Regions from separate parts of the Homo sapiens genome. Here all the other regions are linked to region 5. Evidence: fine-mapped expression QTL. A gene starts in region 5. Each other region holds a variant in brackets. All regions are shown on one strand. Distances are from middle to middle.

What was found. PIP is the estimated chance that this variant, and not a neighbour inherited with it, causes the effect.
Region 1: its variant is fine-mapped to the expression of SYTL2 in whole blood (INTERVAL, PIP 0.96).
Region 2: its variant is fine-mapped to the expression of SYTL2 in blood mononuclear cells (TOPMed, PIP above 0.99).
Region 3: its variant is fine-mapped to the expression of SYTL2 in tibial nerve (GTEx, PIP above 0.99).
Region 4: its variant is fine-mapped to the expression of SYTL2 in whole blood (TOPMed, PIP 0.92).

The regions. Positions count from the first base shown.
Region 1 is chr11:85,778,319-85,783,425 of GRCh38, forward strand. All of the region lies in intron 1 of SYTL2 (synaptotagmin like 2), which reads right to left. Among named protein-coding and RNA genes, the nearest start is that of SYTL2, 30 kb to the right of the region's middle. The variant C/T (reference allele first, on the strand shown) is at 2,559.
Region 2 is chr11:85,707,482-85,712,588 of GRCh38, forward strand. SYTL2 (synaptotagmin like 2) reads right to left here. Exons shown (of 20, transcript NM_206927.4): 13 at 3,632-3,751; 14 at 1,850-2,019; 15 at 1-50. Among named protein-coding and RNA genes, the nearest start is that of CCDC89, 24 kb to the left of the region's middle. The variant T/A (reference allele first, on the strand shown) is at 2,631.
Region 3 is chr11:85,717,044-85,722,150 of GRCh38, forward strand. It overlaps SYTL2 (synaptotagmin like 2), which reads right to left. Exons shown (of 20, transcript NM_206927.4): 9 at 3,815-3,916; 10 at 1,747-1,800; 11 at 440-487. Among named protein-coding and RNA genes, the nearest start is that of CCDC89, 33 kb to the left of the region's middle. The variant A/G (reference allele first, on the strand shown) is at 2,311.
Region 4 is chr11:85,445,458-85,450,564 of GRCh38, forward strand. The region is part of intron 3 of DLG2 (discs large MAGUK scaffold protein 2); the gene reads right to left. Among named protein-coding and RNA genes, the nearest start is that of DLG2, 180 kb to the right of the region's middle. The variant A/G (reference allele first, on the strand shown) is at 2,601.
Region 5 is chr11:85,809,128-85,814,234 of GRCh38, forward strand. It overlaps SYTL2 (synaptotagmin like 2), which reads right to left and starts at 2,014. Exons shown (of 20, transcript NM_206927.4): 1 at 1,827-2,014. RefSeq lists a silencer at 1,973-2,152.

The sequences.
Region 1 (5,107 bases), 31 kb before region 5:
GGGATGGGGTAGAGCCCAGGACTATTTGATAGTGTTACCCAGGAGTGGTTTTGGAGTTTGGACTCGAAGCTGAAAGTGACTTTCTACCAAAGAGAATTTAAACCGTCTTTTCCATCACAACAGTACCCGGTACTAATTGCAGAGTGAATGCAGTGACCAAAGAGAAGCAGAGCTCCCAAGTTAGAAAGCAGAACCAGTTCTAGCATCTTTTCAGCCATTCTGGCATCTTGAGCAACTCAACAGAAGGCAGCAAGACCTGTAGACATGCACCACTGAAGTCTTGAAGACTTATCCTTGAGCAAGTGCCTAACAATGTCTAAGCTTAGTGAAGAGGAGTAGCATAGACACATGCATGCACTATCTATTTAAAATAAGGCTGGGCGTGCAGTGGCTCACACTTGTAATCCCAGCACTTTGGGAGGCTGAGTCAGGCGGATCACTTAAGCTCACAAGTTTGAGACCAGCCTGGGCCACGTGGCAAAACCCTATCTCTACAGAAAATACAAAAATTAGCTAGGTGTAGTGGTGCATGCCAAGTAGTCCCAGCTACTTGAGAGGCTGAGGTGGGAGAATGGCTTGAGACTGGGAGGCAGAGGTTGCGGTGAGAGGAGATTGCCCCACTGCACTCAAGCCTGGGTGATAGAGCCAGACCTTGTCTCAAGAAACAAATACATGAATAAAATAAAAACAAAATATAGAATCTATATATTCTGTAGTGTACTATACTATATATATTATATAACATATACATCTATATACATAAAAACTACTATACATTTAGTTCTCAGTCATTTGCAACCAATTTATGAAATCGTGAAAACCTCTTGACCTATTATTACATAGAAAATTAGGCTCGGTGGCTGCTAAGTGATGATAAAACCAGGATCCTCATCCCCAGGTAGTAAAATAAGGCATCCCTTTGCCATAGAAGAGTGTTCTAACAAGGGTATTTTGGTTCAGATGTGGTTGTTTATTGGGAGGGGGACAGCAGGATTACATGTGAAGTTATTGCTATTGCTATTATTTCTATGAAGAGCCACCAGTCTGGAACACTTACACGGGCTATCTCCCCAAATCCTCAGTCCAACACTGTAAGGAAAGTGTCATTATCATTCCTATTTCACAAAAGAGGAACTGGGTTCAGAGAAGCAGAATAATTTCACCTCCATATGTGCTCTTAATTACTATGTTGTGTATAGATATGTGTATATATGGATATATTATAGATATAAGTTACTATCTACAAACTGACATAATGGAATTTCAAATGTTCATTTCAAAAGCTATAAACATATGGAACAGATAAAACTCATCAAGTGTTTTTTTTTTTCCCTAGCAGAAGTAGGACTTAAAAAAGGTCACACTATCATGGAAAACTGAAAATATTTAGGTAAAACAATCTTCAGTTTCAGAAGAAGAAAAACAGTCATTTTATAAATTTTTAATCAACAAAGATCAATCAGTAAATACTTCCTAAGGACATACTGTGTGAGAAGACTTGTTAGGTACATCTCACTGAAGAGAGGGGCCATGATTTTAGAAAACTGGTGTGTACTAGAGAAAGAACACTGTCCAGGGATTAGGCAAGGTCAACTTTGCTCCCAGCTCAGTCTCTCTCTCTTGCTATGTGATGCTGGGCAAGTCACTTAACCTTCTGAAGCTTCTATCTCCTCATCTGCAAAGTGAGGGAACTAAAAAGGATGATCTCTCACATAGACTCCTTCTGACGATAAAATGCTGTGACTCACACTGGTGAAAGAAGACAATTCAGGCCACAGCAGAATTTGTCTACAATGAACTATGGCCCTATACCTCTTATTGCATTTCAAAGCCCAGAGTAAAACCATCCCAAAGTCTGTAGTCAAGCAAGCAACAGTCATTCTTTCAATAGTGCTTATGCTCATCTAAAGAGTAGGATAATTTTCCACCAAATGAAATGTCTCTCTGTGATATTGTGAAATATCTTTGTTCTCTTTTCCTGGTACATAGCTCCTAAAACCCTTGGAATCTCTGGAGTGATAAGAGTGTCTTTTGTATGCTAAGGTGATAACTGGTGGCTGGCAGCCACTAGGTAGCTTCAGAATGGGGGCTGGTCACAATAAAGACTAAAGCATGATTAAACTTTTCAGTCCAAAGCCCCAGTCTCTGGGGAGAAGAGAGGTCCCTGCCAGCACAAAGGTTAAGCTAATCACTGTGTCCATTGGTTTAATCAGTCACGCCTATGTAACGAAGCTGCCATAAAATCCCAAAGGGATTGGGTTTGAAGAGCTTCTTGTTAGCTGAACACATGGAAGCTCCATGCCCCTTCTCCCATACTTTGCCCTATGCATTTCTTCTATCTGGCTGTTCATCCATATCCTTTGCAATATCCTTTATAATAAACTGGTAAATACAAGTAAAGTTTTTCTCTGAGTTCTGTAACATTCTAGTGAATTAGTCAAACCCAAAAAAAGGAGTAGTGAGAAATCCAATTTACAGTCAGTCAATCAGAAATATAGGTGACAACCTATTACTTGCGATTGGCATCTGAATTAGGGACAGTCTTGTGGGACTGGGCC[C/T]TCAGCCTGTGAGATCTGATGCTATCTTCAGTTAGGCAATGTCAGAATTGAATTGAATTAGAGGATACCCAGCTGGTGTTTGCTGTAGAACTGATTGCTTGCTTGGTATGTGTGGGGAAAACCCCTGCACATCTGGGGTACAGAAGTGTTCTGCGCTGTGGTGAGTAGAGAATAGGAAGAACACTGCAGTAGTCCATTCCAATGCTGCTAATGAAGACATACCTAAGACTGGGTAATTTATAAAGGAAAGAGGTTTAATTGACTCAAAGTTCAGCATGGCTGGGGAGGCCTCAGGAAACTTACAATCATGACAGAAGGGGAAGCAAACACATCCTTCTTCACATGGTAGCAGCAAGGAGAAGTGCTAAGCAAAAGGGGAAAAAGCCCCTTATAAAACCATCAGATCTTGTAAGAACTGACTCACTGTCACTAGAACAGCGGCATGGGGGTAATCACCCCCATGATTCAATTACCTCCCACCAAGTCCCTCCCACAGCACACAGGGATTATGAGAACTACAATTCAAGATGAGATTAGGGTGGGGACACAGCCAAACCATATCATTCTGCCCTGGCCCCTCCAAAATCTCATGTCCTCACATTTCAAAACCAGTTATGCCCTCCCAACAGTCCCACAAATTCTTAACTCATTTCAGCATTAACTCAGAAGCCCACAGTTCAAAGACTCATCTGAGACAAACCAAGTCCCTTATACTTATGAGCCTGTAAAATCAAAAGGAAGTTAATTACTTCCTGGATACAATGAGGGTACAGGCATTGGGTAAATACACCCATTCTAAATGGGAAAAGTTGGCAGAAATGAAGGGGCAACAGGCCCCAGGCAAGTCCAAAATCCAGTAGGGCAGTCAAATCTTAAAGCTCCAAAATGATCTCCTTTGAGATCTCCATGTCTCATATCTAGGTCATGCTGATGCAAAAGGTTGGCTCCCACAGCCTTGCGCAACTCCACCCCTGTGGCTTTGTAGGATACAGCACCCCCTCCCAACTGCTTTCACAGGCTGGCATTGAGTGTCTACAGCTTTTCCAGGCACACAGTGCAAGTGTTGGTGGATCTACCATTCTGGGGTCTGGAGGATAGTAGCCCTCTTCTCACAGCTCCACTAGGCAGTGCCCCAGTGGGGACTGGGTGTGGGGTCTCCAACCCCACAGTTCCCTTCTGCACTGCCCTAGCAGAGGTTCTCCATGAGAGTCCCACCCCTGCAGAAAACTTCTGCCTAGACATCAGGCATTTCCACACATCCTCTGAAATCTAGGTGGACGTTCCCAAACGTCAATTCTTGACTTCTGTGCACTGGTAGGCTCAAAACCATGTGGAAGCTGCCAAGGCTTGGGGCTTACAACCTCTGAAGTAACAACTTGAGCTGTACCTTGGTCTCTTTAAGCCATGGCTGGAGTAGCTGGGATGGAGGGCACCAACAAGTCCTAGAGGCTGCACACAGCAGGGGGGCCCTGGACCCAGCCCAGGAAACCATTTTCCCTTCCTAGGCCTCCAGACCTGTGATGGGTGGGGGGGCTGCTGTGAAGGTCTCTGACATGCCCTGGAGACATTTTCCCCATTGTCTTGCTGATTAACATTTGGTTCCTCATTACTTATGCAAATGTATGCAGCCAGCTTGAATTTCTCTCCAGAAAATGGTTTTTTCTTTTCTGTCACACAGTCAGGCTGCAAATTCTCCAAACTTTTATGCTCTGCTTCTTTTTTAAACGTAAGTTCCAATTCCAAACCATATCTTTGTGAATACATAAAACTGAATGCTTTTAACAGCATTCAGGTCACATCTTGAACACTTTACCGCTTAGAAATTTCTTCTTACAGATATCCTAATCATCTCTCTCAAGTTCAAAGTTTCATCTCTCTCTAGTTCAAATCTCTAAGACAGGGGCAAAATGCCACCAGTCTCTTTACCAAAGCATGATGAGCTTTGCTCCAGTTCCCAACAAGTTCTTCATCTCCATCTGAGACCACCTCAATCTGGACTTCGTTGTCCACATCAATATCAGCATTTTGGTCAAAACCATTCAACAAGTCTCTAGGAAGTTCCAAACTTTCTCACATTTTCCTTTCTTCTTCAGAGCCCTCCAAACTGTTCCAACCTCTGTCTGTTACACAGTTCCAAAGCCGCTTCCACATTTTTGGATATCTTTACAGCAGCAACCCACTCCCAGTACCAAATCACTGTATTAGTCCATTCTTATGCTGCTAATAAAGACATACCCGAGACTGGGTAACTTATAAAGGAAAAAGGTTTAATGGACTTACAGTTCCATGTGGCTGGGGAGGCCTCGGGAAACTTACGATCATGACAGAAGGGGAAGCAAACATGTCCTTTTTTACATGGTGGCAGCAAGGAGAAGTGCCAAGCAAAAGGGGGAAAGCCCCTTATAAAGCCATCAGATCTCGTGAGAACTCACTCACTATCACTAGAATAGCAGCATAGAGGTAACCACCCCCATGATTCAATTACCTCCCATCAAGTCCCTCCCACAACAGGTGGGGATTATGGGAACTACAATTCAAGATGATATTTC
Region 2 (5,107 bases), 100 kb before region 5:
TCTTCTTGCCCATTTTGCCTTTGTCTGGTAGCAAATAGGCCTTTACATATCTGAAAAGGAGAATTGAACAGACAAAGTCAAAGAAAATAAAAGTTATGTTTCCACCTCTAGTTTTTTAAATACATTGAAAACTGACAGCAGAAATAATTATTTCATGACACTGAGAAAAGCAGTGAATAACAAATTTTCCTACCAATACCTTTATACTTAAATGTGTAAAGGGTTTTAGTGGAATTGATCATTTTATATTGTTTTGAAGATTTTTAACGGGCATTTCCTGCATTCCTTTTTTCCTTTGGCCTTAACTAATATGCAGGGGTGGAAAGGGGCAGAAAACACACTTCCAGGCCAGGCACGGTGGCTCACACCTGTAATCCCAGCACTCTGGGAGGCCAAGGTGAGCAGATCACCTGAGGTCGGGAGTTCAAGACCAGCCTGACCAACATGGAAAAACCCCATGAGCCAGGCTGGTCTCAAAAAAAAAAAAAAAAAAACCACACACACACACACACACACACACAGAGCTACAAAGTTAGCTGGGTGTGGTGATGCATGCCTGTAATTCCAGCTAGTCAGGAGGCTGAGGCAGGAGAATCGCTTGAACCCGGGAGGCGAAGGTTGCTGTGAGCTGAGATCGTGCCAGCCTGGGCAACAACAGTGAAACTCCACCTCAAAAAAAAAAAAGAAAAAAAGAAAACACACTTTCAGCATAGAGCTTAAATCTGTTTGTTCCCCTAGTTTGTTCCCCTCTGAGAAAACGCTTTGGTGCTTGCAGTATTTTTAAGTTTTTGTTACCGTCTTTTGAAATAAATTAATCTTAGTAAATACCTAGTCAAGTTATCTTCAATGTTAAAAAAATAAAGGATGTTGAGCTCAGTTGTTTTTATAATAAGAATAAAAGAAAAAAGGATTGCACTTGTCTCAGCAAAATAATTAAGAATCAGACTTCTGTATAGGGATAAGTAGGGAATACCATTCAGCGTTTGCAAAAAAAGAAAAAAAACTGAAGTGCAATTAAACCTGTGATTTAAAACAATAATTTTAGTAATTTCCCCTAAAGTTCTGTAAGATATAATTTAAATATGAAAATTCTCTCATTCTAGAGTCTTAACTATTTTTATACCACTGAGCTTTATGAAGTGTGTCCCATGTATCCCTAATTTTGTAAAAAGTTTGAGAGTGTGGTGGAAAGAGATGGGTTCAGGTCCTCATTCCTCATTTTGCTTCTATCTGAATTCACATATATGGGTTACTTGTCTTCTCTGGTCCTTGCGTTCTTATCTGTAAAATGAAGGAACTGAACAAGATGACCCCAAAGGTTCTTTCCAAGTTGAAACATTTTGTGCTTCTCTGTGATTTTTTTTTTTTTTTTTTTTTTTTTTGAGATGGAGTCTCACTCTGTCGCCCAGGCTGGAGTGCAGTGGCCCGATCTCAGCTCACTGCAAGCTCCGCCTCCTCGCCATTCTCCTGCCTCAGCCTCCCGAGTAGCTGGGACTACAGGCGCCCGCCACCACGCCCAGCTAATTTTTTGTATTTTTAGTAGAGATGGGGTTTCACCATGTTAGCCAGGATGGTCTCGATCTCCTGACCTTGTGATCCGCCCGCCTCGGCCTCCCAAAGTGCTGGGATTACAGGCGTGAGCCACCGTGCCCGGCCTTTCTCTGTGATTTTTATAATTTAATGTTTGACATATGAATTTATAGAATAAAACAGCATTTCCCCCCAACTTTTCAAACATTCCTCTTAACACATACCCTCCCTCCTCTTGATTACTTTATTTCCTTCCAATTCCTGTAAGATTGACAGTTGGAGAACTAAGAGAAGGTAGGTGACTCTAAAATGTACTTACGGGTCTGAACGCTGTTTTTTTACATCCGCTGCTGCTAAGTCCTTACACTGGGCCACAAAAACATGCAACTCCTTCAGTGACTCCACATATTCAATTGCAAACTGAATATTTCCTTTAACTTCCAGATTGCCAAAGTCTCCACTATAAACACTCATCACACTGCCACTCACCTGAAAGCATCAGAAATACATAGTGTTTGTCTCTATCTCATTCTTAAACCTAGCACAAGGATCATGGATATAATCCCTGCTGGCATTATTTCTTTAGCTTGCTTATAAAAGCAGTTAATTCAATATAGCATAAAGACATATCTATAAAGACAACCTGACATGATATACATGACTAGAGTTTTTTGTTTCATTTTGTTTTTGAGACAGAGTCTCACTCTGTTGCCCAGGATGGAGTGCAGTGGCTTGATCTCGGCTCACTGCAACCTCCACCTCCCAGGTTCAGGCGATTCTCCTGACTCAGCTTCCCAAGCAGCTGGGATTACAGGCGCACGCCACCATGCCCAGCTAATTTTTATATTTTTAGTAGAGATGGGGTTTCACCAGGTTAGCCAGGCTGGTCTCAAACTCCTGACCTCAAGTAATCTGCCCACCTCGGCCTCCCAAAGTGCTGGAATTACAGGCATGAGCCACCGCGCCCAGCCGACTAATGTTTTTAAATAATTTTCCCTATAAGACATAGATGAAAAGTGAAATGCAATGTTATTTAGATGCTGGCTCATTTCAAAGCAGGGTGATTTTATGCTAGGTGGCATTCAAAGGCATCCATTTTC[T/A]GGCATGCTTAATATTTAAAATCCAAAAGAAAGAAGATGTGAGAAAACCCAGACACTCTAATCATAGTGACACACTGCTGTATCGAATTTCCAAGGCACTAAAAAGGAATTTTACCATGTTACCCATCCACTGAATCTAGAAAAATGCTTACTGAGCCATGCGCTTTTAGAGGTCAGGAAGGGTAGAAAATGGATGATTGATGAAGGGAGTTTAAAACCTTCCCAAAGGCAGATGTTAGATTTTTATCAGCAGAAACTCAATTTAAATAGGTTTTTAAAAAAGGTTTCAGAAACACAAGGCTAGCAAGAATTTAAGCACAGTTTTATCATTTCTTCAGCATACTTGGGTGAATATATGTATGTGTATGCACATCTGATACTCAGATAAGTGTATGTGGATATATTTACATATATTTTTACATACATACTACATGCACATACAACTTCACCTTATGCAAGAAGTTCTATGTAAAGTCAAATTAGTTAGATTCCCTTAAATCAAATCTGAGTAACTACACTTAAGGATATTTCCTTTTAAAATGCTGCTCAGATGCCTTCTAAAAGGCAAGGAATTACCTCTCATATTCTTTCATGTCAACCAGTATATTGATTGCTCAGGATTACTAAAAGAGAGGTTCAATTCTATGCCTGCAAATCATATATAAAAGCATATCTGATACAAGCAGATTTTATCATAGTTACCCCATTTGTTGCACAGAAAAATTTAGTGGTTCATCTTCTTGGCAATTTAAGTTTATTTGTGAAGTACTTACATCAACAACAACAAAAAACCCCACAAAGATTTGTTTATGATGGATATGAACCCCGTTAGTCTAAAAAAAAAAAGATAGATGTAGCTAGCCAGAAGCTAATTATGGATTAGAGAAACTGTTTGTGCCCTGAGAAATACAGGAGGAGGCTGTTTTACAATGAGCATGAGCATGTCAGAGCAAGGTTCAGAGACGCGGAGAGATATTAATATGGAGCCTTTGTTTACATACAGAAGACAAGGACGTCATGCCAGAGGAGCTGCTAAGATTGGTTAAAGAGCTCGGGCTCTTCTTGTGTCTGCTGAGCTGGTAACTGCTTTCTGATGCTGTATCTGTTTCTCTGTCATCACTCTACAAAACAGCATATAATATGCACAATATTTAAATTCAGAATGAGTCAAGATCAGAATCTCTGTTTAGGCAAAGATGAGATTTTGGTATTCCACTGACATTTACGCAAGGTCAAAGGATGCTAGTGCTAATTGCCAGGGTATGGGATTCAGGATGGAGTGGGTGGTCTGCCTTGACCTCACCTAAGGAGGAAGGCAGTGCTTAGCTACCAAAATAACGAAGTGATTTCTTTTCACCTACAAAGTAGTCTTTCCCAAAGTGCTGCAGAAGACAGCACTATTGTGAGCTTTCTTGCCAGTCTTTTAATATTATATATTTATTTGCCTGGGGAACTCTATTGGTATATATGAGAAATTAACTTTACCCAGATAATAAAAAGATTTACTGTTAAAACCAAAACATCATGTTTAATTCCTCTTATTAGCACAGCCCCTAACTTCTCTAAAAATCAAATCTTTTACTTGACACACTATTAAACTAGGAAAAAAGAAATGCTAGTCTCATCTGTTTCAACTCAAGGCCATATATATATATTTTTTAATGTTTAAAATTTTTAAACTTCCCCTTACATATTCCTGTGTTATTATGCTTATCTTTTTGTTCCTAGAGTTAAGTATATTAAATTATACATTCTACCCACATTAGATTTTAACACATTTTTTAAAAAGAAGTAAAATACAGGTATTTATTTTAAATATGTCCGAGGAAGTATTTACCTGGGACAAGAAAGAAAAGTGACAGTAACAAATTTTGTTATATTTGAATCTAAAGTTTATTAAATAGTAGCTTTAAAAATTTATGATTCAGAGTGAGCTCCTTTTAGGGTTAGAGAGCTTATGGAACAGTTCAGTGGCACCAGGGGTTAAGGGACACCTTTATGGAGTAGTTAGTTCATGCCAGCATATTCCAGGACCATGCAATTATGCATCAATATAATGGATGCCAATTGTAATGCAGATTAATAAAGGAGTTAAAGGAAAGCAAAATTAATGCTTTACGTGGATAAGAATCCTTTCTCAAGGATTAAAAAAATTCATATCTTTTAAATGTCTCTGTTGTCACACTCTCTCCCCACATGCTGATAGTCATTTCCCTCTATTTTAGCGCCTACTGCATTCTACCTAGTATATCAGATCATTAGTGAATTATTGGAAGGATAGGACTCTGCCTTGTTGATCTGGAATGGTGTTTTACATGTAACTGGCACTCAACAAATGTGACTGATGATAAGTCTCAAAGGGAACAGATGAGCAAGGCCTGATTGCATTTCCACTTTCTTTAATACCTAGTTCAACCCTATACCCCATGCAAAATGATAGAGCTTAATTCTGGCATCTCTGATACACAAACCCAGAT
Region 3 (5,107 bases), 92 kb before region 5:
CTCTAACAGTTCTTTCATAGGTCCAAATAAGTTATAAATGAATTCACATCTACAGTTTCGTACAGAGGCCACAAGAGATCCAATACTCAAAATCATACTGCAACATAAAAACCAAATGAAATCAGAAGGTGCCAACTTGCTTTTAAGCAGAGATTCAAACAGCATAGAGACTGACAAAAGCACAATAATATCAGCAATAACATATATATATATATTTAATATACAACTCTCCCTCAGTGGAACCACAAATCATTCTTTCAACACAGACAATAGTAAAATGTTTTCAATAAAACCCTTATCGTAATGAAATAGCTTTGCAAGCTGCAGGAGTTTAGTGCCAATAATAAATACTGTGTTATTAATGGGGTTAGTTATTTCAGTATATTTAATATGTAAAGTGGAATGTTTAGTCATTTGTGAGAAAGATCCTGCTACTCACTTCTTGGTACGCATTCATTTGTAACTGGCTTCTGATCTGGTTTCTCATCTACTCAGGAGGGCAACATTGAGAATAAATACCATTTTAACAGAAGGATTAAAGAGACATGAAAGTAAAGCTCAAATGTCAGTTTCACAACTGAGACAGCAGAATACATCTGACAGGTTTTCATCTTGCTTTCATCCATTCCTCACTGTGACTCTTCTTCATTAGCCTCTTTAAGGTCTCCTGTTCAACTAAAAATCTGGGATCAAACAAAAGAGATACGGAGCATCCTTCCTGTAATTCACTAGACCACAGTATGGAAAATGGGAAGGAGCACTGGACTAGGAGTAATGAAGCTGAGATTCTATTTCCTGCCCTCCCAGTGACTGACTAACTATAGGATCTTAGAAAAGTCACCTAATTTCTCTGAGTTTTTCTTATCAGCAAAATGAAGATAAAAATCCCTGCCCCATCAACTTCAGTGAGGTTGTTGTAAACATAAAATAAGAAAGACAGAACGATTACATAAAAGTAAAGAATGACCTTTAAGGAGCTCTGTTGCTGCATTTATATGGGAAAGCTCAGTGAGTACACATTTTTATGATTATAGTGAAGGCAAATTTAACAACAAGTAAATAAAATCCAGCATGCAAATACAAATTATACATTTGCATAAATTCTGCAATATAAAAATCAGACTCATTTCTGTCTCTCCCTCAACCAAGGCACCACTATACTATTCATCTTATAACAGAGCCAAGTAATACCTGATCCACTGACAAGCTTCAAGATCTTCTGGCTCCATTATATTCAGAATCAACTTCACCCTCTGTCTATATTTAGTTATTTATATAAGCAGAGGCACGATTTCCCACCCTTGTTCTGGGACTCTTTCCTTTGAATTTAAGATTTTACCAGTTGTGCCCAGAGAGATCTAAATGCTGAGACTTGAGAATCAAACAGAAGAATAACTTAACCCAGGAATTCACTCCACTCTTCCTGCCTTTACAAAGAGTTCTGCAAGTCAGAGTAGCAAAAATCAGCTCACATCCAAAGAAATACAATTTTCTATTTATAGAAACCCTTGCTTCACAAGGGTCTCTGATGAGATCCTCATGACAGTATCACCAGAAGAAGCCTTAAGAATACAAACTATATTAAATGTACCAAATCAGAACTGTTTTATAGTAACTTAGGCACTATTCACCACATAGTGGCAAATGACGTTCTTCTGTTTACCCAACAGCTGCGTCCCGGAGACTGCCCAAATCACCCCAGAAGTTAATACAAAGACAGACACGCAAATACATAAAGATATTTACCATCTTCAGCACTACGCACTAATTCTTCTGGCTGATTATCTACTTTTGCTTGATCTGTTCAGAAGAAATTAACAAATGGTTAACATGGCTGACCCTTGGAGAGAAAAGAACAATGAGATTGTCCCTGGAAGCCCCCGGAGTTGGAAGCAATTAGTCAAGATGCAATGAGGGGTGCAACCAAGATGTCTTCCCCAAAATACTTTCTCTTTAGATTAGCTCCTTGAGCCAGTGCCATAGCGGGAGCTCCCATTTCAGCCCGGATGCAGCTCACATCACTGCTGCACACAGACTCCCAAGGGTTAGAGGGTTAGTTCAGAGCAAGCAATCGGCCAGCAGCAGGAGAAAGCACGGGGCTGCAACAGCCTCTCTATTCTTCTGTAAAGGGTATGATGCTAGCCATGACTAACACCTTCCCAAACCCATGGTCATTAACAAATATTTGTGTGTGTGCATCATCATTCACATATGCCTCTGGGAGGCTTGCTTGGGAAGTCAACTGAAGAGATGTAACTGGGGACCAGCTGCTAAGTGGAATCTTGGCAGGCTAGTGTGAGAGTGGGTATC[A/G]GTATTTGGAAGGGAGCGTGCAGGAATACCCGTCAGCTGATGGTGATTTTTTTTTAACCCTATACATTCCTGAGTACTTTAAAGCTGCACCATGGAAATAGCCCCATGTTTCACAGGCAAGAGGTTTGCTAAATGGGCCAATTGTTCTGAGATTTTTTTTTTCTTTTTTTCTTTTTCTCAAGGCCCATCACCAACATCAGGAAAAACAATCAGGGCTGTCCAACAAAGGATTCGACTCGCCTTCTCTGGAAGCATTCAGGCGGATATGGGGGTTGGCCGCCTGTTGAGGAGGCTTTAGAGAGAATTCCTGCATTGAGGGGAGGTTAAAATGGGTGATTTTTAAGATCCCTTCTAACCCTGAGATTCCAAGATCCTTGGGATAGTCAGGACTACATTCCAAATTGGGAATACTGTCTTCAAACCCCTGGGAATCTGTGAATTTTAGGAAATGTTTGGTGAAGTGGCTTTTTCTTTTCTTTTTTTCATTTTTAAATTCTGACTTTTTATTCTTAATTGCAAATGCACAAAAAATATTCTAAACATAACAATGGCCAATTTTCAATCATATGAGTTTGGCAGTGGTTAACTTTTCACTTGATAATTTTTCTTATGACCATCTGCAATCCCAGGGGTGCATTTTAGCTTGAAAATAGCAAGAACAAAACCCCAAGAAATCATGGTTTCTTAGTCCATTTGTCTAGCACACAACTCTCTTTATATATTATGTTTTCTGCTAGTACTCAAGAAATCCTTCACCATTAAAGCAGCTGCCAGTGGGGAATCGTGTACCTAAAGTCTTTCATGTTAAGTAGTTTTGGGCTTATAGTTCCAGTATCTAGAAGAAAAGTGTGAACAGAATAGAAGGGATAAAAGAGAAAGGAAAGTCCTTGAAGCCAGGGACTAATTCAACTCCGTATCATGCAAAATTCACTGGACATCCAACGCTGTCATATATAATGTGGTCCCTTCATAAATGTTCTTGATAATAGCCTGTTAATTTTGAGTCCCAGATCTTCCGTGTAATACTAAAAAGGTCATTTCACATTTCTGAGCTTCATTTTCCTCATCTTTAAATTTGGATAACAATAATTCACCTCTCATAGGGTTGCTTGTGCTGGTTAAATGAGATAATACATGTAAAATTGTTAGGCACGTTTTGGCAAATAATATTCAATAAATGCTAGTTATGACTATTTTCACTAATACTACTAGCTACCACTATCCTTTGAAACTCACTGTACTTGAGAAACACTCAAACTGGGATTCTTCAATTAAAGGAAACCTAGTGTTTTAGTAACCAAATGTAATATATTATTTTATAAGCAAAGTTCCAGCCACTTTAGGTTGAGCCTCTTCAGCGCACTTTGGAGAGGTTATTTTCATCTGTTAACTGCCCCCATTAGAGGGTGCAGTGCACAACAGCACGCAGTGAGGCTACAGGAGAGCACATAGGCATTTTTAAGCTTAGATGGGGCATGAACAGTGAGGCGAACTTTATTCTCACTTGATGAATCTGATGAAATGTCTTCTAGACTTTTGGAAGGCATTTTCCTAGCGGCACTCCTTTCCAAAGTTTTCAAAACAGGACTGGGTTCTTCTTCTGAACCTGTTATAAAACAAAATCGATGAACACTGCACAATACCAAAAAAAAAAAAAATCCTCTAACATATGGACATAGAAATGGTAGGCTGAAAAGAGACATTATGCTATGAGTTTCTACTTTAAGAAGCACTTATTTCACAGAAGAAAATAAAATTTCTCCACTATTAATATGCTCTTAAACATAATTTTCCTGGTCAAGAAATATTTGCAAACGTAAACCCTACAAAAACAAGATTACCACATTAATAGAAATGTGATCTCTTAGTTGTTTACTCCTATTTTAGACATATGATTTGTCCTATGCCAGACATTGACTCTTCCCATTTAACATTCTAGCTTTTGAAGACAGCCATGAAATACTTCTAGGAGCATTAATAAAATTAATTCAAAACCGTGGAAGGCAGGATTCAGATGTTTAACATCTGTGTATAATTGGGTACACATATGAGTGCATTCTCCAGATCAAAGGTTGTAGACTTTCTGGGTTTCATGATCTAGTATAATTTCCAATGAAATGTTGGGAAATAACATGGGATAGTCAAATTTTTATTTTAGTAAGGCATTTTAAAGTTGCGGGAGGGAGGCCTCTATCATTTACTAATGCCGTTATTTTATAAAAGGAATGGCTGCATCATGAATAAGCTTAAGTACTGACATTTATTACTGCTGTATTCTCAGTGCCTAGAACAGTGGCTGGAAATAAACACTTCAAAATATTTGCTGAATCAATGAGTGATTCGATTAAGGAATCAATTAATTTAAGAACCACTTCTCTAGACAATAATTTCCTGAAATACATTCCAGTTCTGCCTAGTACATTCCATAGCAAATGGATTCTAAGATGAATTAGATTTGGATGTTCTCTGTTCAAATTTAAAATGTTCCTTACTGCGGACCTTCTCTGTGCATAATGGCCCAGCATTTCCAAAAGTATTTGACTACTGAACCTTTAATTTTTCCCAAAGGAGCATACTGAGGTATTGCTTAGTTAAGAGCTCAGCCGCAAGTCAAATGTGTTAGCTTGCTCCCCAAAATTACAGTACCCTTATAGTAGGTTTCTCTTCATTTTTCACCCCACCCCCACTGCAGTTTGCTTTAAAATAATAATTTAGGTTAGAGTATATAAACCTAAATTAAAATCATGACTATACCATTTGATACTTCTTAATTGGCTTGTTATTCTAAAATGTCTTC
Region 4 (5,107 bases), 360 kb before region 5:
ACCTGAGGTCAGGAGTTTGAGACCAGCCTGGTCAACATGGTGAAACCCCGTCTCTACTGAAAAATGCAAAAAATTAGCTGTGCATCATGGCCTGCGCCTGTAATCCCAGCTACTCAGGAGGCTGAGGCAGGAGAATCGCCTGAACCTGGGAGGTGGAGGTTGCAGTGAGCCGAGGTTGCACCACTCCTGTCCAGCCTGGGCAACGAGAGTGAAACTCCGTCTCAAAAAAACAAAAAGATTGAAAGCACTAATCAGAACAGGCACACCTCATTTAAAAAGAGACACATTCCTAAAAGTGGTATAGAGTTTTAATTTTTATTTTTTCTTTTAAACACACAATTTCCTTTTTTAGAACCTAACACAGTGGGCACTCTATAAAAATTTTGGGATTGATGAAACCATTGATGGAGGAAACCATGGAGGCTTTCCATCCATTACTCACACATTGCTCTATATATTATGTACACTGCCTCTAATCTACAGATGAGAAATTTTAGGCACAGAGATATTAAACAACTTGCCCAAAGCCACAAATATGTCTGCTGACTCTAAAACCCATTGTTTACAACTTGTGGCTTTGTTTGTTAAAAGATCCCTTCCTCTTTAAGTAAAAGAGCAAATTTTACCTTACAAACCATCAGACCCTAAATTAATCTACCTGAAAAATAAAATGTTGGTATGGTGTTTTGAGTTGTTTCAAAGTGAGACACATTAAGGACAAAGTATTTGAGAACATTTAAAGGTCTTTTAACTTCATTAGGGATTTTAAGTCTGATAGATTTAACATGCCTCTACAAAATGTACAATCTAATCATGTTGAAAGATCAAATCTAGAATAAGCCCTATCAATTAGCACAAGAATAACAGTGCCATTTGTTGCCATTGGAGGAAATGGTTTTGTTATAGATTTCTAAGAGAAATTAGTTAGATTTTACTTTGAAGGCCATAAAATGTTGTTTATATTCTTTTTCAAATAACAATTCTTGTAATAAGATAACAAAGACATACTGCTTTGTAATTCTTATGAAAATAAATTTGTTAATAATCACTTAAAATAATAGCTTCCATTTGTTTAGTAAATATCGATCAGGTAAATGTTCTAGGCACTTTATAAACATCTTATTTAATCCTTGCTACAACTATTTAAGATAAAATACTATTTTTCACATTTTATAGGTTCATTAAGGCTTAAATAACTAAAATTATGTAGCGTGAATCATACAACCACAGATGCATCTTATTCTAAAGCCCATGCTATCTCCATTGTGTCCTAACTGGAGCTACCTTAAAAGAAATATTACTCAGTGACAACTCCAGTTTGAAGGGATATAGTATATGTGTGTGTGTGTGTGTGTGTGTGTGTGTGTGTTTATATATTGATATATAATATTTTAAAATTTAGAATGTAAATTTGTTTTAAAATGAAAAACTTCTAAGAAAAAGCTTTGTATATCAAAGACAATAAATACATTCTGCCATTTGAATAAAATCTTTTAGTCTAATGAATCACGGCAATTTTACGTTATTTAAAAAGAGAAAGGCAACACAGTGTGCATTGGTCATAAGTTGAAAATATTCCATTGTAAAGTCAAAAAATCATAAATAGAACCATTATAAATTAAAGACCAACTGTACAGAAGTTCTAATCTGCCATTTAATTGACTAGTTGTATAACTAATCTTACAATTTTCACTTTAAGTCTTCAAACTTCACCCATACTGATAATCTAGCTTTCACTTCTTTATTTAACAAATACTAAATTCTAGAAACATTGACAGACTCCAAGAATACTATGATGAAAAACACATTTGTTATGGACTGAATTGTGTCTCCCCTGCCCCCTGCCCAAACTAATATGTTGAAATTCTAACTCCCAGTACTTCAGAATGTGACTATATTTAGAGATGGGGTCTTTAAAGAGGAAATCAAGTTAAATGAGGTAATTAGGGTGGAACCTAATCCAATATGACTGGTGACTTTATAAGAAAAGGAGAAGATTAGGACACAGATACAGAAGGAAGACCATATGACAATACAAGGGGAAGATAGCCATCTGCAAGCCAAGGAGAGAGGTCCCAAAGAAACCAACCTTGCCAACCATTGCCAACCACCTTGATCTTGGAATATTAGCTTCAAGAATTGTGAGAAAATAAATTTTTGCTCTTTAAACAATTGAATTTGTGATATTTATTATGGCAGCTCTAGAAAACTAATACATATTTCATGATTTATTTGTGTTCCCTCAGTCATTACCCTAAACATTAAAGTAAAAATTTGAAGCTTAAAATTTCTGAAAAAAAAATTATGAAAAGGTCAAATCCCAAGAAAGCAAAGAAACCATAAGTATTTTTATTTTGGAACTTTAACTGAAATTAGACTTGTACATCAATAAATTTGAGAGGGATGAGATAGACAGAAAAGGCAATTGTTTCCCAAACTGATCTTAACCAATCTCTTTGAAAATGTTTTCCCAAAAGTCTAATAATTCTAGGAATTCTCTGAACTTGGAGGCAGCTTAGAGCAATGGACAGATCGTTGACCTTACAGACAGTTAAATCTCAGTAGCTAGCTGACTCTGGGCAAGTTATTTAGCATTTCTT[A/G]GCCTCGATTGCTAATATGAAAATTAAGAAACTCATAGTTTGACTCAAATGAAATAATCCAAATTAAAGCGATTTTTATACTTGAAAGTACCTTACAATGTTTTCATGAGGAATAATTTTCCTGCTTTAGCAATCTAAAAAGCCCTATCAGAAAAGGATATCAATGAATTTCTAATCTAAACTAGACTATTGCTAAGAAACAACATTAAGTTTACCATTTCCTGGAAACTATTCATTTTTAAAACACTACATTCAGTATTCTGGAATTGCCTCAATTCTCCTTGAGCATTCAAATAATGAGCAGAGACCTTGAGATAAGATTTGGGGTGAGAAAGTAAAAATAAATTCAGACACCAAAAATCTGCCCTGACATTCATCAGGCTGGAATAATAGGCCCAGATAAAGCTGGCTGGAAAGTTAAAAGGAAACACTATTTCACCCAAGGATATGCTGCCATTATAAAGTATCATCACAACCCCTTTCTTTGAATGCCTACTGCTTTCTTACTGAAAAACTTTGTTCTATAAAATCAAAGACAATCAGAGACTTTGCTTCTGAAATTCTCTCAGTAAAAATGAAATATCCCACTCTTGTCTGGAGATTCTAAGTCACTTTGACACAGAGAAGTAGCCTCTATTTAGGATCCAGGAAATACCTTCAGATAAGGGTTTGGGGACCCAATATTCAACATCTATCTTATCTTTATTGCTTCCAAGGAAACAAGTCCATTGCCACATCCACATCTAAAGCATTTACACATAGCCTTGCTCCTTCCTTTCCTTTGAGCCTATCAAACACTAATATATTTAAAGTAGTTCCCATTCTTCATTTCTGACTGTGCTTATTTATGCTTCTCTCTCCCTCTCCCTCCTCCTCTTCCTTCCACTCTCTTTTAAGTCAAACATGGCAGAAGTTGTTTACGTTAATCTTATCAAATGAAACTCAGTCATTATTGATCCTCTTTATTCTGTGTTTTGTTTGTTCAATCAGTATCTTCTCTATTATTTCCTTTTTTCCATTTTATTGAATTTATTCTGTCCTTTTTCTAACATGTTAAATTGGATACTTGGCTTATTAATTTTTTTCCTTTCCTTTTTCTATTTATTTTCCTTGGTTAGAATTTTTATGCTTCCTGAAACAGAGAATTATGTCTTCCATCAATTCTGGAAATTTTTCATCCAGGACTTAAAAATTGCTTCTGCCACATTAATTCTAGTCTCTTCTGGAACTCCAATGGGTGATATCAGCTCTTGTCATTCTAATGTCCATGTCTTTTAACCACTCTTTTATGTTTTTCACCTCTTTGTGATAATTTCTTTAACTCTATCCTTTATTTCATTAATTTATAATTTTCTTTTGTATAATCTTCTTTTTAACCATCTACTTTTTAGTTATTATAATTTTCATTTTTAGGAGGTCTATTTTGTAATTTTTATTTCCTATTCTGCCCCTTCTTTTTAATTATATCTTATTCCTTTCTTATATTAGAGAGTACATGCTTTATTTAAACATTTTAAACATTATATGAAGTGTTTAGTGATATTTTCTGGTAAGTCTCACTTATAGTGATTTATTTCTCATGTATTTTGTAGTTTTCATTCTCAATTTATGTTTTATTAAAGCTGTTTTTAGGTAACTCCATGAAGCCTGGGTTGAAGCTACATTCAGTGAAAGATGATATGCATTTGCTTCTGCCAATCACCTGAGTGCTTTCGAATTGGAACTACCTAAAGTTTTTTTTTTTTTTTAGCTCTAGACTGCTCAGACTACAAAAATGACGTAAATTTTGACTAGGCACAGTGGGTCACGCCTGTAATCCCAGCACTTTGCAAGGCCAAGGTGGGTGGATCACCTGAGGTCGGGAGTTCGAGACCAGCCTGACCAACATGGAGAAATCCTGTCTCTATTAAAAATACAAAATTAGCCGGGCATGATGGTGCATGCCTGTAATCCCAGCTACTTGGGAGGCTGAGAAAGGAGAATCGCTTGAACCCAGGAGGCAGAGGTTGCATGGTGAGCCAAGATCGCACCACTGCACTCCAGCCTGGGCAACAAGAGTGAAACTCCGTTTTAAAAAAAAATGACATAAATTTTAACTTGAAAGCGATATCAGGGCAGCCTTTGTGGTTATCAATTTTCAGAGCAGATATTTCTATTGTTTTCTATGAGAGCCCAGGCTAACACATACCTTCTTGCCAAGTTGTCTTGCTTATCTTCGTTATTTGACAGGGAGACATTTTTTTTCACCTCTACCCTCATATTAATCATAGAGTTAATTTCTGGCTTTATGTGGGTTCTCAGAGATATCTTCACATCTGTGTATATACTAGGCTTTTTCTCCTCCACTGCCTGGTCATTAAAACAGGATTACCATAATTAGCAAATGCCCTCTAGATAGCTATGATATCAGCAACCACCTACAATTCTATTTCCAACTCATCTTCTTTTTTGGCCCCCACAGACTTCCTTTACTTATTTGTGAGCTCACTTAGGAATTTTAAAATATT
Region 5 (5,107 bases):
AGGTGCTAATTCATTCATTCCACAAATGTTTATTGAGCAAAACCTGAAAAAGGCCTCTTAGGGGACAGTGGAATCATTCACCAGCCAACGGTTAGGGCTAACGGGTCAGATGTGGACAATCAATCTTTCATTAGACCCCAAACCACCTCTAGGATAAAGCAAACAGGGCCCTGCCCCACCCACGCACTAGCAGCTGGGCAGGATTAGGGTAGGCCTTCTAGAACAGTACTGCTGCTGAGAGGCTAAGGCAGTCACAGATTACCTCCAGAATAACGGAAACTCCTGCACCATAAATGACATAATAGCTCTAAGATGTTTTGCATAGTGCCTGACACCTGGTGAGAACACAATGTTAGACATTTTTGCTCTCCTTATTCCAGCTTGCTCTTACTTAAGGAGCACAAAGACAGTGTAAAGAACACAGGTTTTAGAATCAGAGATTGGATTTGAATTCCAGCTATGCTACTTCCTAGCTAAGTGACTAAAGGAAGCAATCTTTCTGAGCCTGTTTCTCACCTATAAAATAGGGTATAGTACATCACCCCTCATGTGGCTTTGTGAGAATTAAGGATATATTACATACAAAGAAGTGTCTGGCCCATAGTAAGTGCCCACTAAACAGCAGTCAACATTGCCCTGCTGCCGTCCCCACACCTCTTCTCCTTCCTAGCTGCTCTTGATGGGTTCTGCAATCTGATTTCACCTGGATACCACACTAAGGGTGAGAAGGGGCAGAACTTCAGGGGTGGAGGAAAGTGAGGGAAGGGAAATGCTGGAGACCTTCCATAGAAATCCAGCCAAGTCCTCAGCTCCTTTCAATCATCCTACTCTATCTGGCTGCTCCATCCAGCAGACAGCAGGGGTCACCATCCTGGTGGGGAATGGCTGCCAACAAGGGGACGGGAAGCTGGATGGCAGTTTGCATCCACCCCACCTTCCAGGGTCTATCTGTCTGAAGCCCCACCGGGCTTCCTCTGCACATCCCTGCCGGGCTGTGTGGCTCAGGGGGCTGACAGGGTGATTCATAGCCTGTTCTTATCTAGGCTTCTATCTCAACCCTGCGCCCAAAGCCCTGGAGGCTGCTGGTCACAAACCAGCACTAAATGAAAAGAAGAACTTTTCATTAAGGCAGGAAGTGGAGCCCCTCAAGGTCAAAGGGGATTTATAAAGAGAGGAGGAAAGAAAGGGAAGACGCGGCAGGATGGGTGCAGAGAAAGAGAGACCCACTTCCTATATGCTGGTGGAGCCCTGTGTCTTAGACGCTAAAAACAGTCGCTTTTCCACTTCAAAGGATGATAAAGCCCACTCGTGTAGTTTATAGCTCGCCGTGGGACGAGGTGTGGGTATGGAAGAGAATTCCAAAACACGTCTTATTTTCAAAGGAGAAATCATCATCCCCTGGCCGGCCCTTCCCAACACCCCACCTGTAAACAGGTGCTGACGCTCCTACCTTTCTGCACCTGAGCAATCTGGGGGCAGTTACTCTGCAGCCAGGTCTCCCCAGCACCCAGCCCCAAGCCCAGGTCAGTCCCTGAAAGCCCTAGAAAACGCGATAGCTCAGCAGAACCCTCGCCTACCCGGGCATCCCAGCTTCCTGGCCGCCTGGGCAGCGGAGGTGGCTCTGGAGTAGGTGGGAAACTGAGGAAAGGAGCTTTCCCCGTGCCAAAACGCAGTTCCCATTTTAGAACTGGTTAGACTAAGGAACAACATTCTACACCACCTCCCTCACTTAACAGAGGAGGAAGCAGAGACCAAGAGAGGGAAACAAAGTTGCCCGAGGTAACACAGCGAGTGGGCCAAGTAGAGACTGGAACCCGAGTGCGCACCTCCGAGTCGCTGCCGGGCAGGGAGCGCGCCTCGCCGTCTCTCTTGTCTTCTGGCCCCCAGCCCTCGGCCTGGCGGTGCAAACCGCGCAGCCCCGGGCGCGGCGCGTTACCTTCCCCCGGGCAAGGCGTTGCGAGCCTTCACTCTCCCGACGGACGCTGGCGGCACGGCCCGGGTGTCGCCCGGCACTGTCAACGCAGAGCGGCGTGCGCGAGTCCCTCCCCGCTACCCCCGCCCCCGGCGGGCGGTGCGGTGGGGCCGGTCCCGGGTGCTCGGGCCAATGGCGCTTCGCCCGCTCCCCGCCCCGGCCCGCCCCGGCCTCCTCGCCCGGCACACAGCGCCTGCCAGCCCCTGCCCTCTCCCCTTCCCTCCCTTCGCCCTCCGCCCCCGCCTGCTGCTTCTCTCCGGTTCCTAGCCTCCTTCTCAAGTGTACCTTGCCCCGAAACAACCTGTTTTCTGTGCAAATAAAGCAGCACTGTTGTTATTGTTATTATTATTTTTATCACGGCGCGTTAGGGGGCCTTGGAGCCCGAGAGTGTGGAGCACTAGGAGCCTCTGCACTCCGAGAAGGGACAGCCACCGCGCAGGGAAAGGGGCGCGGAGGGTATGGAGCCCGGTCATGGGGTAACTTGCTTTAACCCTCGGGACGTCAATTTCCTCACATGTGAAATAGAAGAAGGGGGGAAAAAAGTTGTTGAGAGGACTAAATGAAGTGATGCTTTAAAATACAATAATACCTAGAGAAAGGTGAGGGCGTCATGCACTGCCTGAGCTACTTACTGGGGTATGCACAGAGGACTGGTAAGCTCCTGGAAGACGCTGTGTGGCAGGGAGGCAGACAATGCAATACAGTAAATACAATATTGTGGTCGGGCGCGGTGGCTCACACCTGTAATCCCAGCATTATGGGAGGCCGAGGCAGGTGGATAACCCGAGGTCAGGAGTTCGGGACCAGCCCGGCCAACATAGCAAAACTCTGTTCTAATTAGAAAAGAAAAAAGAAAAATTAGCTGGGTGTGGTGGCGAGCGCCCGTAGTCCCAACTACTTAGGAAGCTGAGGCAGGAGAATCGCTTTAACCCGAGAGGTGGAGGCTGCCGTGAGCCAAGATCGCACCACTGCACCCCATCCTGGGTGACAGAGCAAGACTCTGTCTCAAAAAAATAAATAAAATAATTTAAAAATTGTATCACGACCTATTTTTTACAAGTTACCCATGATGGGGCCAGCCCAGGCAAACCTCTGAAGGAGATGAACCTTAAAGCCTTTTTCCTTATCATTTCCTGGACTAGTGTTGTCCATTTAACTGAGGGTGGCCCAGGTCTGCCTTTGGTTCTTCCAAAGGTCTTCCTTCTCCCAAACTTACAAATACTTATCCCCAAGGGCTTCAGTTAGTGCCCAGTGCAGGCTGCTAGCCTGGCCCAAGAGTCCTGGCACTGTGCAGAGATGTGTATTCTGGCTTCCTTCAGCCTTTGAGAGCCTGGTGTGTCCCTGTGCTGGGTGAGCATGCCACATGCAAAAGAGGAATAAGCCACTGGTCTTGCCTTTGAAGAAACAAATTTGTAAATAATTTCATTTTAGGGTAAGTGTTATAATAGGTTGACAAAGTGTTGTAGAGTCACTACGCTGAAGGAGGGGGACAATAAAAAATACAAATGTGACCAAGGTAGGTCTTGAAGGAGGGCTACAAATTAGGTCAGATTGAAGGGGTGACAGAAGACTGGGCACAGAGAGGCAGGCAGAGACATGGAGATGCCTGTCATATGTCACGGCTATTGCACAGGATTTGGGACAATGAGGCAGAGATGAAGCTAAGGAGGTAGGTGGGCAGATGTTGGAGGAGTGGCTGTACCTGCCTTGCTGAGGGAAGCAGGCTGTGTCCTGTTGGTGATGGCTGTTGGCGAATGATTTTAGGCAGGGGAGTAGCGTGACCTCAGATGCTTTTGGTACTTCACTTTTATTGTTGATTGCACCTGCCTTGGTTATCCCCTTCCTGCCCCTCTCTAGCTCTGGAGGGCAGGCACTGGGTCTTGCTCACCTCTGGGTGCCTTGTATCATCTGGCATAGGACTTTGAAGGAACTAAATACATGCTGTTCCCAGTATCACTCGTCCCCTGGAAACAAATAGCAATGCCTAAATGCTAGAGAGGGTCACAGGATCCTTGCTTCAGGTTGTGGGGCAGGCAAGTGGGGGAGAAATTTTAAGGCAGGGTCTTGTTATGGCTCCCAATTCATCTAAATCTTGTATGGCTCAGAGACTAAATCTTAGAGCTCTTGGCCAAGATCCAAATGCTGTTAGAAATGTCAATTTCTAATAAGACCTTAGACCAATTACTCAACCTCCCTGTGCTTCAGTTTGCTCATTTGTTAGAGAGAAAATAATTGCACTGCTCTCTCAGGCCTACTGTGAAGATTAAAAGAAGATGCACATGTTTAGCATGATGCCTTGCACATACAGTGCACTGAAAAAGCCTTGGTTAACACGATCATATCAAGTCAGCAATGGCCTGTTCCACTTATCCCATAGGAACCCTTCAAAATGGTTTACATATAAGTGACACTTAAACTTTAGAGAATTCTAGGTTGACATTGAAGGGGAAGGCAAGAGGGTAGGGATAGCATGGTGTAAGGTTAAATGCACAGACTTTGGTGTATCTCCTGGCTCTACCACAGAACTCGCTGGTTGACTTTGGACAAGTCACTTAATTTCCTTCTTTCTCTGGGTGACTTTAGACAAGTCTCCTCCCTCCCTCCCTCCCTCCCTCCTTTCCTTCCTTCCTTCCTTCCTTCCTTCCTTTTTTGGCAGGGTCTCACTTTGTTGCCCAGGCAGTGGCACAAACACAGCGCACTGCAGCCTCAACCTCCCAGGCTCAAGCCATCCTCCCACCTCAGCCTTCCAGGTAGCTGGGACTACAAGCACACACCACCACGCCCAGTTAATTATTGTATTCTTAGTAGAGACGTGGTTTCGCAATGTTGACCTCTTGAGCTGAAGCGATCTGCCCGCCTCAGCATCTCTAAGTGTTGGGATTACGGGCGTGAGCCACTGCACCCAGCCTAAGTCACTTAACTTCTGTTAGCGATTGTTCTTCTATAAAATAGAAGTAGTCATATTACCTGCCCCATGCCAAGGAGATAACACATAACACATATAGCATATTGCCTGGCCCAAGGTAAGATCTCAATTCCTGTTAGCTAATGGTGTGATAATGGTTGGAAGAGAGTTATTATAGTTTTTGGAAAGAATAATCTCCATGCCTCTGCCTGCCTCTCTGCACCCCAGTT